Linked DNA regions of Homo sapiens: region 1 is linked to region 2. The links come from fine-mapping of genetic effects on gene expression. A gene starts in region 2. The other region holds a variant in brackets. All regions are shown on one strand. Distances are between the middles of the regions. Region 1 has its middle 93 kb from the start of LINC02303. Region 2 holds the start of KLHL28 (kelch like family member 28).

What was found. PIP is the estimated chance that this variant, and not a neighbour inherited with it, causes the effect. A credible set is the group of variants that fine-mapping cannot tell apart.
Region 1: its variant is the best candidate, but not a certain one, in a credible set for the expression of KLHL28 in caudate (GTEx, PIP 0.70).

Annotation. Positions count from the first base shown.
Region 1 is chr14:45,806,045-45,811,431 of GRCh38, forward strand. No RefSeq gene overlaps it. Among named protein-coding and RNA genes, the nearest start is that of LINC02303, 93 kb to the left of the region's middle. RefSeq lists an enhancer at 5,032-5,387. The variant A/G (reference allele first, on the strand shown) is at 2,834.
Region 2 is chr14:44,959,496-44,964,882 of GRCh38, forward strand. KLHL28 (kelch like family member 28) reads right to left here and starts at 2,452. Exons shown (of 5, transcript NM_017658.5): 1 at 2,351-2,452. TOGARAM1 (TOG array regulator of axonemal microtubules 1) reads left to right here and starts at 2,695. Exons shown (of 20, transcript NM_001308120.2): 1 at 2,695-4,972. The coding sequence starts at 2,927. RefSeq lists enhancers at 1,519-1,608, 2,123-2,637, 2,179-2,988, 2,638-3,152.

The DNA.
Region 1 (5,387 bases), 850 kb after region 2:
AAGCCTGGAGATTAGATTGTAAAAGGATTGAAGATCCAGGTCATGTTCTTTGTATGTGGTTTTAAAGTTTACCTTATTCTGGGTACGATGTCAATACTCAGGAAAAATAATGCGATGATTAACTAAGCAGCCTCTCTGTGTTTTTTTTTTTTCACTTTGGTTTTATGTAAGTTATTATGTTCTTAATGTATATTGATTTATAAATTTTATGATTATTTCAGTGGAATGTTTACCATTTTATTCACATTCTCCTAAGCTAGTGTTTCCAGTAGTTTCAGATCAGTTGACATGACATTTATCTCAATACAGGCCTGCCTCTTGGTTCAGATTTCTGTGTCTTTTTTGTCTCTGAAAAGGGTTCACAATGAGTAAAGATGTGTTAATGTGTATGATTCTACAGGGAGGGTAGGGGAAGGATACTAACTCCCCTATATTACATCTATTTACTTGACCGTTTATTTTTGTTTTAAGGGAAAGTAAACTTCATAAATTCTATTTTCCAGAATTGTTTAGGTTGATAACTAAACAATTGGTAGTACTCATGTCTTCATAAATTAAAAACACTACTCTCTTTTTCCTTTCATCATTTCATTGAAATGTGTGTTTTTTATTTTTCCCACATAAGTTAACTGAGATGGAATAGTTTCTTATTTGAGTGGCATGCTCTCAAAAAGAAAAAAAATGTTTTGGGTACACATACAATTCCAAAAAATACTACTATTATATAACTTTGCAAAAAATTAAAACACTTATTTTTTATATTGCAGTTTTGAAAACAAATACTATTTCACAGCATTAAACCTTTTATTTGTAGCATTGTGATGCTATGGAAAAAAACACAGAAACACAGACAGACTGGGGCTTGAATCTTGGCTCTTACATTTGTCCTTATTAAAGTTATTTTACTTTTTGACTCTTATTCATTATCTGTAAAATGTTAATAAGAATTCAATTCTTAATGGGATCATTGTAAAAGTAAGTAAAAAAAATTATGTGTTACACTTAACATAGTGACAAGCACATAGGCAATGAAAGTCATTTTTCTGAAGAATGAACTTTTCAAGAGCTCCTGTTACTTCATTATACTCACTACCAAAAGAGAGAGCTGGGCCTGAGGTTAGCATAGATTGTTTTCAGAGTAGCCTGTGTCTCAAGCCGGTGCTGAGATTACTATACAGGCATGGAACTAATCTGCCAATTTCAGCCTTACATTTTACTTGCATTTCAGGGTCTGTGGAAGGATGAACTGAGGTAATGCATATCTGCAGAGCACTTTTTATAGCCTCTGCGTTGCAGTATGTGGCCACTGCATGCTGAAAGATAGCCAGTGACATCAGGATCATTAATCATGCTTCAGGGATCAGAACCACTCACTTCCTATTCTGGTGCCTCGGTAGTGGCTCTGGACAATGACACGATGATTTGGAAATTCACTGTCTCTCTAATTCTAGGGTTTTGTTTGTAGAAAATTCTACATTGAATCAAGCTATAATAATAGTGAGGTACAGAGTAAAGCCTCCTTTGTATATTCTCTCTCAGTATTCAATCTAGTTGTTCACATGTTATAAAGGGTGACAAATTATTTGAAGAGAGATGAACTGAAAATGAAGGTGTCTTACATGGATGTCATCATCTATTTTTAGCACACTGATATGGTTTGGCTCTGTGTTCCCACCCAAATTTCATCTGGAATTGTAATCTCCATGTGTTGGGGGAGGGATCTGGTGGGAGGTGACTGGATCATGGGGACAATTTCCCCTATGCTGTTCTCATGATAGTAAGTGAGTTCTCATGAGATCTGATGGTTTAAAAGCGGCAGTTTGCCCCATGCTGTTTCCAATACACACAGTGTTTGCAACTAGGAAAATATTTCAATAATATATGAAAGGTTCAAGATATCCTGTGCTTGATAGTAATTGATAAACTATGTGATAACACAAAAATAAGAAGTACATATTTCAAGTTGTGACAACAATTAGAAATATGTCTTCTACATAGCATTATAAATAAAAATAAATCACCTTGCCAAGTTTCATGACCCCATGACTTATTTGTAATACATACTTGAACATGCACATGTCTGATGTATTCCTAGATGTCTGTACATGTATTATAAAGGGCAATGTTTTCCTTGAACAACTGCTGTTTTTAGTGAGATTGTTAGTAGATATTAGTAAATTACACTTGTAGAAAGAACTCTATAGTCAGGAATGTCACATGTGACTGATGAATGTAATAAAAGTAACAGAATTATTATAATGATCACATTTGGTACTAGAAAGAACAGAAAATTTTGTATAGATACAAAATACATAGTCATTGAATGAATAGTTTCTTGGTGGATCAAAGCTTATATATCTTATGGATAATTCCTTAGGTGTGACATGCATCTATTTCATAAGTTGTATAACTTAGTTATATTGTTTTGCATTAATTAGCCTAAGATGTGACATAGATAATAGAAAGGAAATTAAGAAACAAAATTTCCTTTTTTTAATCCAGAAACAATCAGGAACTGTTAAATGGACTAGACTTCTCTTTGATGCCACATAACCAAGCTCTACAGTTCTCTTATTTGACATATTTTAATCCAGGCTTTTTAATCCACTTATCCTCAGTAACAGCCCTCTTCCTTAGACAGTATCTCCAGTCTTTTCTTGCTTTACCTATCCCTACCTTGGACATCTTGATTTTCAGGCCTGTGAACTTAGCCCTGTGTGAAAAGGGTAAAAGGGTCTGAGAACTCCTTAGCATATATTTTTATTACACTTGCATCAATTTATTGTATTACTCTTTGGTTTGGCAATACTCTTGGAATTCATTGAGTAACTCA[A/G]TGGATATTTGCTGAATTAATTAATGGACAGTGGTTACCTAGGTGAAGAAAGAGAGTCAGGGAAAGGACAAAGGTGTTTCTGTGGCTGAAAAGCAGGAAAAATAACATAGAACAAACCATAACAGCATATTTTTCTGGTGTTCTGAATGAGAATTGGCTGTGGAACAGAGCGGAAGGGATACTACATGGGAAGAACCGAGCCTGGGGATCAGGCCTGGATCACTAAGAGCTGATCAAGATATTTCATCTGTTGTTCTTTCATTTTCATTTCAGAGTGGGAAGTTTGTACTAGGTTGCCTCTAAAGGGCTCTTCCTCATCTGAGCTTTTATAATTCTCCAGATGATTGAATTGATGTTGTTCCTATCCAATTATTGATGACACTATTTTGGTTAAGTTCCTAATACCTTGGGGAAAATGTGTAAAATTCCATGTGTCATGTCATAAATTGAAGAGATATTTAGTCAATTTGATATTAACCTTTAGGGAGCAGTATAATTTCATATAACAGATATTTTTAATTTATCCTGATATAAAATGTCCAAAGAAACTATCCCAAACTAGGTAGAACAAGTAAGTCACTTTACCAGAATCATAAATTCAAAATCAATAAGTGATTAACAGTGTTTACTTTTAAAAGCTATTAGAAGTAGTTGATATTAGAGAGCTAGAAACAAGTATTATAGGATATTTATTTGTATTCAAACTTTTATTAGGAAATTGCTCTAATATTGGTCTTTGTGTTTTAGTATATTTCTAGAGAAGTGAGAGAATCAAGAGGAAATATAGTAATGGACATTTTGACAATGAATTATAAGAGAGTCAATATACTGAGGGTTTAAAAAATTAAGATGAAGATTCATAACTGTTTTCAAGCTATTGAAAGGGAATTGTGAAAAAGATTGTGTCCAATTATCATCTATCTCCACTGGGATTGAAAGACAAGTAGTGGGCTTAATATGAAGCAAGAGAAGAATTCATTTAGAAAGGGAGATTTTTATTTTTGCCCAAATTATGATTAAACATTGTAACAGCTGACTGAGAACTGTTAGGAGCCCTTTGTTTAAAAAAAGTGAAACAGATGAATTTCAGTCTTTGTTCATCTAAGTATGTATTTTCACTTTATGATTATTTGATGATCCTATAAGGACTAACATTTCTCCAGAGTTAAAACCATTAATGGGAGATATATTTGTTGGAAGATTCTCTATTCCCAAAACATTATTTTTCTTTTTTCCTTCAAGATAAAACCCAGCACATATTGTCTGCTTTGATATCTAAACAACTTTACAAGCATTCATGCTTTGAAACAGTATGAGAGGCCAAGCAAAGGACATTTAATGTTTTTTACTTTCCTCTTCCTCTCTGGTCACAGGATAAATGTAAAACTGGTTTGAGTAGCTGCTGTAAAGTCGTGTGGGTAGCTGAATTTCCTGTCAGCACACTTTACAGCCTGCAGATGCCTCTGAGGAGAGACAGGCTTGACTTGTACCACTTTTCAGGTTTGTTTCTTAAACTCGCTTCTGTGAGCTTTTCCAGTGACTCCAGGGAGATGAAGCACCTCCCTACTGCTATATATTAGAGCAAAATTTAGCAGACACTTAAAAGCATTTCACAGTCTCAGAAGAGAAACAAAATAAATTCAAATATTTGGATTTTTGCCAAGGCCTTCAGAGTAAACTCAAAAAGTCTTTCCTTTCCCAGTGGGCACATTCTGAAATTTCTCTTTAGGTTATGCATATTGAATAGAGAGAACCATGGCTCACATCTTTCTAAGTTGAGACAGGAAATTACTGCCCCCTTAGGGTGCTTCCCTGGCATTAACACAGCCCAAGGTTGGAACTGGTTAATAGTTGCATGGTGTGTGTGTGTGTGCATGCACACACGCATATGTGCTCTATCCTTGTAGTAGTCAGAGAGCAGATAGTAACTAAGAAAGAAAGGCAAGAAGATAATAATGAAATATTTGGGAATTAAATGAAAGTCATGGAAAATCTTGGAACCATCATGATTATGAAAGAAAATTCTTGAGATAATTCTATGTCTGCAGTTTGCTTTCCACCTTACAAGTCCCTGGGCAAGTTACTTAATCTCTCCAGTCTCCATTACTTCTATAAACAAGGAATAATAAAAACAACTATCTCACAGAATTGTTATGAGAATTAAATCAGACGATGAATGAAGAATGACAATTACATAATAAGCATTCAATATGTTATTTGTGACTGCTAATGTTGGAAGAAAAAACGTCAAAGAATACCATGATAGACAAAAATCTGTGGCTAAATTACCTGCTTTCACAAGAAATTTGGAACCTCTTAGCCTTCTGTTGATCCTGGGAAACGGCTACTCCCTGGTAGGCTGAATATTACTTTTTGCGGTTACACACTTTGTCTGCTCCCAGAGGGCTCTTGTTCTAGACTTTCTGCTTTAAAGTGCAGCTGGTGCTCCTGTTGGCAGTCTCTTGGGGATGCAAGGGTTTGGCCCAGGGCTTTGGCCCAGTCTTGCCAGATCAAGTGGGGGTAATCTCCTGTCCCCATTTATATGCAGTACTCA
Region 2 (5,387 bases):
GTTCAATATTCCTGGATGTCTGTAAAATTTGAGTAAGAACACAGAAAAATCATAGTGATTCGCCCAGGGAACTAATGTGTTATCTCTGATTCTGGAAATAAAGTAAGTTTTTAGGGCAATTGTGTTTACCCTTAAGTTCAGCTAAAAAAATTAACATATGTAGCACACACATTCCTATAATTCACTAATTTAACTACATTCTTGAAATTATTGAAATTTTAAACTTGTTTTAGCTGAATTTGCAATTTTCAATGTATCCTTAACCACTTCCTTTTAACTTTCTGAGGTGTACTATTAATAAAACACCTAATAGTGTATTCTACTATCTAAAAATTGATTACAAATTTGTACTCTCTCTATATATGATTAAATACAAAAGGCTTTTTAAGTCAATATACGAGAAATTCCTAGATTTCCAAAGATTAAAAAAAATCTGCTTCGTAATAAAAAGAATACACACTCAATGAATGAGATTTATGTTCCACAAAATAACTCTAAAAGATAATCAGTAAGACGTGATGCTGATGAAGTCCCATTTCCTAAATATCCACTATGGAGACTAATGCCTCTTCTAAGTCTTCAATCAAAGAGACAAAATGTAACAGATAAAAAATAAATTGCAATCTGTAATGTATAGTGATCCACAGGGATCTAAAAAAACAAGAATCAAAAGGAAGACTCATCTTGCTTTGTTCCCAGGAAAAGGGCATGATAACTGCTTAAGTATCCACGTCTCTCATTTAAGACTTTCGAAGTTCCTTTTCTGTGATTCCATGATTACCACACAACCTCTAGTTATTAACTTGGCTTCCCAAGTTCTTGGATACAAGAAAGAGTGCACTGGATTTTCAACTTGAAAATTCTGATCCAACATAAACTGGCACTGTAATGTGTACATCATTGTCTAGGTTAGTTTGAACTGGGTTCCTCAAGTCTGGGCAATACATGACTAGAAGTCTACACATTTGAGCTTCTTAGGTTGGAACTGTGAGAACCAGACACTTTCTCATTGACAACTGCTACAATCATTTCTTGTTTTTCACCTCCCTGTCTTTAACCTGTCCCTAAAATGAAACATGCTAGCTAAACCTAATTTAGGCAGATTCATTTAAACACGAAAATGGCTCATTAAAACCAAAGTAACAGCCTAGAATTTAAACCAAAACATAGGATGTATATTTACACAGCCTCATTTACATTATAGTCTATTCCCCACCCCCACCCCCCCAAAAACAAAACAAAACAAAACTGATATTCAAATCGTACTTTAAGGCAAAAATCCAGAAATTATTTTTGCACTTGCATCAGCTGGGAGCATTATTTATAAAGCTGTTTGGCATATGTGACTCATTTATTCCAAGACTTTAAAAAGTATTTAAGAGAAATCCCACCTGGTACAGAGCAGGGTAGGAATACTTGCATTTGAAGTGCATAAATTTGGGTCTTCAAATGATAACTTAGACTTTTCGCACGAGTCATTCAAAAGTAATAGTATTATTCCTTCAAAAAAAAAAAATATCTCTTCCACACTCCAAAGCATTCAGGCTCACACTAGACACTCCAGCTCTTCCACTGTGTCCGTTTAAGTATCACTTATGAGGAGAAAATGCACACAAAATTCTCAGTTCGCCTAAAATAAATAAATGTCTACTATCATTCCTAAATCCACAAGGCAGAATTCTCTTAGAACCATGATGCCAAGAACTTCCACCGCAAGTGAAATTGTCTTCGCAATCTCTGTCTCTAGGAGACTGAAAGGCTGCAGAGACGCTTGAGGATCCTGCAGGGAGGCTAGGGCGGCAGACGGAGGGGGCGGAGGTTAGGGGAGAGTCCCACAGAGGAACTGCATTAGAAGGAAAGATTTTGATAACGTCTAAGGGAGAGGCGGTTAGCTACAGGGGGAAAAAAACAGACCTATTTCCATATTATGTACGTTGTAAAGAAAACGCAAAGTGATGAGGGTAAGGAAACGTTGCCAAAAACAAACAAACAAAAACAAAAAAAAATTAACCCTCTGCGGCCGGAGGGTTAAGAGAAGTCGACAAAAGGAGAAGGGGGAGGCGAATAAAGGCCCCAAAGACCAGGAATTGAAAAAAAATACCCGATTTGTGAGCTTGGCCGTGGTCCAGATCTTCTGTCCTGATAAGCAGATGGCAAGAGGAAAGGATCGCAGTTACTCAGGGTGGTAGAGAGTAACGCGTTTACAAGGGTGACGAGCCCTGCACAAGAAGATGTCGCCTCTCTTTCCACCTGCTCCGCTCAGTCCTTTGCCTCTTACTCTAGCACCAGTGGCATTCGGGCAAAACACTGCCAAAGCCTGCACCGCTGGAGGACAGCAAAAGGAAAATACCTGAGTCTCAGTAATCACACGGGCAGCGACAGGAGGAGGAACCGCGGACAACTGGAGCCTGGGCTGGATCCTCACTAGCTCCGGTCAAACCCTAACTCTTACGGGTGGGGCGGGCAACTTCCGCCCAGAGCAAGGAAAGCGTCACATCCGTCAAATGGCTTCACCCCTCCTCCCTTCTCCGCTGTAGCTGCGTTTACAACGTTCTGACTTCCTCTTCCAGGAGACTTTGGCCTAGTCTCAACACCTGACGTGGACTACATAACCCAGCATTCATCACGGCAAGTGGATTTCCGGGTCAAGAGGTCCGCGCTGGGTACATCACCATGGAAGCAATCGGTTTGGTCACGTGGTGCCCTTGGTTACGCCCGGTGGCAGCTGTGGGGTCTAGGGCTCAGACGGGGGCCATTTTGCCAGAGGCTGCCTCCCGGAGTTGGGGGCGGCCTGGCGGCAGGCTGAAGCTGTTCTTTTGCCTCTTCTGCAGCTTGGGGCTTGGAGAGGATCTGGAAGTCTGGGCTCCATCGAGCCCTTTGGAGACGGCAATGGTTTCTTCCAACCACCACCACCTGACAACCCTGCATGGCGGCTGCCCCCTCCGCGCTGCTTCTGCTGCCGCCCTTTCCAGTCCTCTCTACCTATCGGCTCCAGAGCCGCAGTCGTCCTTCCGCCCCAGAGACCGATGATAGTCGAGTTGGGGGCATTATGAGAGGAGAGAAAAACTACTACTTCCGTGGAGCTGCGGGGGACCACGGTTCCTGCCCCACTACAACTTCGCCTCTGGCCTCGGCCCTCTTGATGCCCTCGGAGGCAGTCTCAAGCAGCTGGTCTGAGTCTGGAGGCGGTTTGTCAGGGGGAGATGAAGAGGACACTCGGCTCCTTCAACTCCTCCGCACTGCCCGGGATCCTTCTGAGGCCTTCCAGGCTTTGCAAGCTGCTTTGCCGCGGCGGGGCGGTCGACTTGGCTTCCCCCGACGCAAGGAAGCTTTGTATCGGGCACTGGGCCGAGTGCTTGTGGAAGGAGGTAGTGATGAGAAGCGGCTCTGCTTGCAACTTCTCTCGGACGTTCTCCGGGGTCAGGGGGAGGCAGGCCAGCTTGAAGAGGCCTTTAGCTTAGCACTTTTGCCTCAACTAGTTGTCTCGTTACGGGAAGAGAATCCAGCCCTGCGGAAAGATGCGCTGCAGATCCTTCATATATGTCTGAAACGTAGTCCTGGAGAGGTGCTGAGAACGCTTATACAACAAGGACTGGAAAGTACCGATGCCCGACTTAGAGCTTCCACAGCACTACTGCTTCCCATCTTGCTTACTACTGAGGACTTGTTGCTTGGTCTGGATCTCACCGAGGTGATAATATCCCTAGCCCGAAAGCTTGGTGATCAGGAGACAGAAGAAGAATCTGAGACAGCTTTCTCCGCACTTCAACAAATTGGGGAGCGACTTGGCCAAGACAGGTTTCAATCTTACATTTCTCGTCTGCCCTCTGCCCTGAGGAGACACTACAATCGCCGCCTGGAGTCCCAGTTTGGAAGTCAGGTTCCTTATTATTTGGAACTTGAAGCCTCTGGATTTCCTGAAGATCCCCTTCCCTGTGCAGTGACTCTTTCCAACAGCAATCTTAAATTTGGGATTATTCCTCAGGAGCTGCATTCACGATTATTGGATCAGGAAGACTATAAGAACCGGACCCAGGCCGTCGAAGAACTAAAGCAGGTGCTGGGAAAATTTAACCCTAGTTCTACTCCTCATTCTAGTCTTGTTGGCTTCATTAGTTTGCTATATAATTTGTTAGACGATTCTAACTTCAAAGTGGTGCATGGCACACTTGAAGTCCTGCATTTACTGGTTATTCGCCTTGGAGAGCAGGTACAGCAGTTCTTGGGACCAGTTATAGCAGCTTCTGTCAAAGTGCTGGCGGACAACAAGTTGGTGATCAAACAAGAATACATGAAAATCTTCCTCAAGCTAATGAAGGAAGTAGGACCTCAGCAGGTGCTTTGTTTACTCCTGGAACATCTCAAACATAAGCATTCCAGAGTGAGAGAGGAGGTGGTGAACATTTGCATCTGCTCCCTGCTGACCTATCCTAGTGAGGATTTTGACTTGCCCAAACTGTCCTTTGATCTTGCCCCAGCTCTTGTAGATAGCAAACGCAGGGTACGCCAAGCAGCTTTAGAAGCTTTTGCCGTATTGGCATCATCAATGGGCTCAGGTAAAACCAGCATCCTTTTTAAAGCTGTGGATACAGTTGAACTGCAAGATAATGGAGATGGAGTGATGAATGCTGTGCAGGCCAGATTGGCTAGGAAAACCTTACCAAGGCTCACAGAGCAGGGATTTGTGGAATATGCAGTACTGATGCCATCTTCTGCCGGGGGTAGGTCAAACCATTTGGCACATGGAGCAGATACGGACTGGCTTTTGGCTGGTAACAGAACTCAGAGTGCACACTGTCACTGTGGTGACCACGTGAGGGATAGCATGCACATTTATGGATCTTACAGCCCAACTATCTGTACCCGAAGGGTATTAAGTGCAGGAAAAGGAAAAAATAAATTACCATGGGAAAATGAGCAACCTGGAATCATGGGAGAAAACCAGACCTCCACTTCCAAGGATATAGAGCAGGTATGCTTCTCTAATTTTCTTGAGTCGAAAGTGTGAAGAATTTAAATGAAAATATGCCCGTGATGACTTAAGGGTCAGCCTGCTTGAGGGAAACATGTTATGCTTTGTTTTAAATTGATTTTAAATCCATCTGAATGTTGGTACTCATTATAATGGTACAGATCACAAAGGACCATTTAATAGGCTTCCTGCTTGATAGATTTAATTAAATTTGAGACACATGTGATATAGACAATACCAAGATTCAGTTTTAGTTACTGTAGCATGTCAGTTTATCTCATTCATACAACAAACATTGAATACCTAGTACGTGCCAGATAAAGAGCTAAATTCTGGGAATGAAGATGAGGCCAGTTTCACACAGTATAGGAAAAAGGTCAGACCTGGGAATTAGCAGTTAACAAATTCGTTAAGT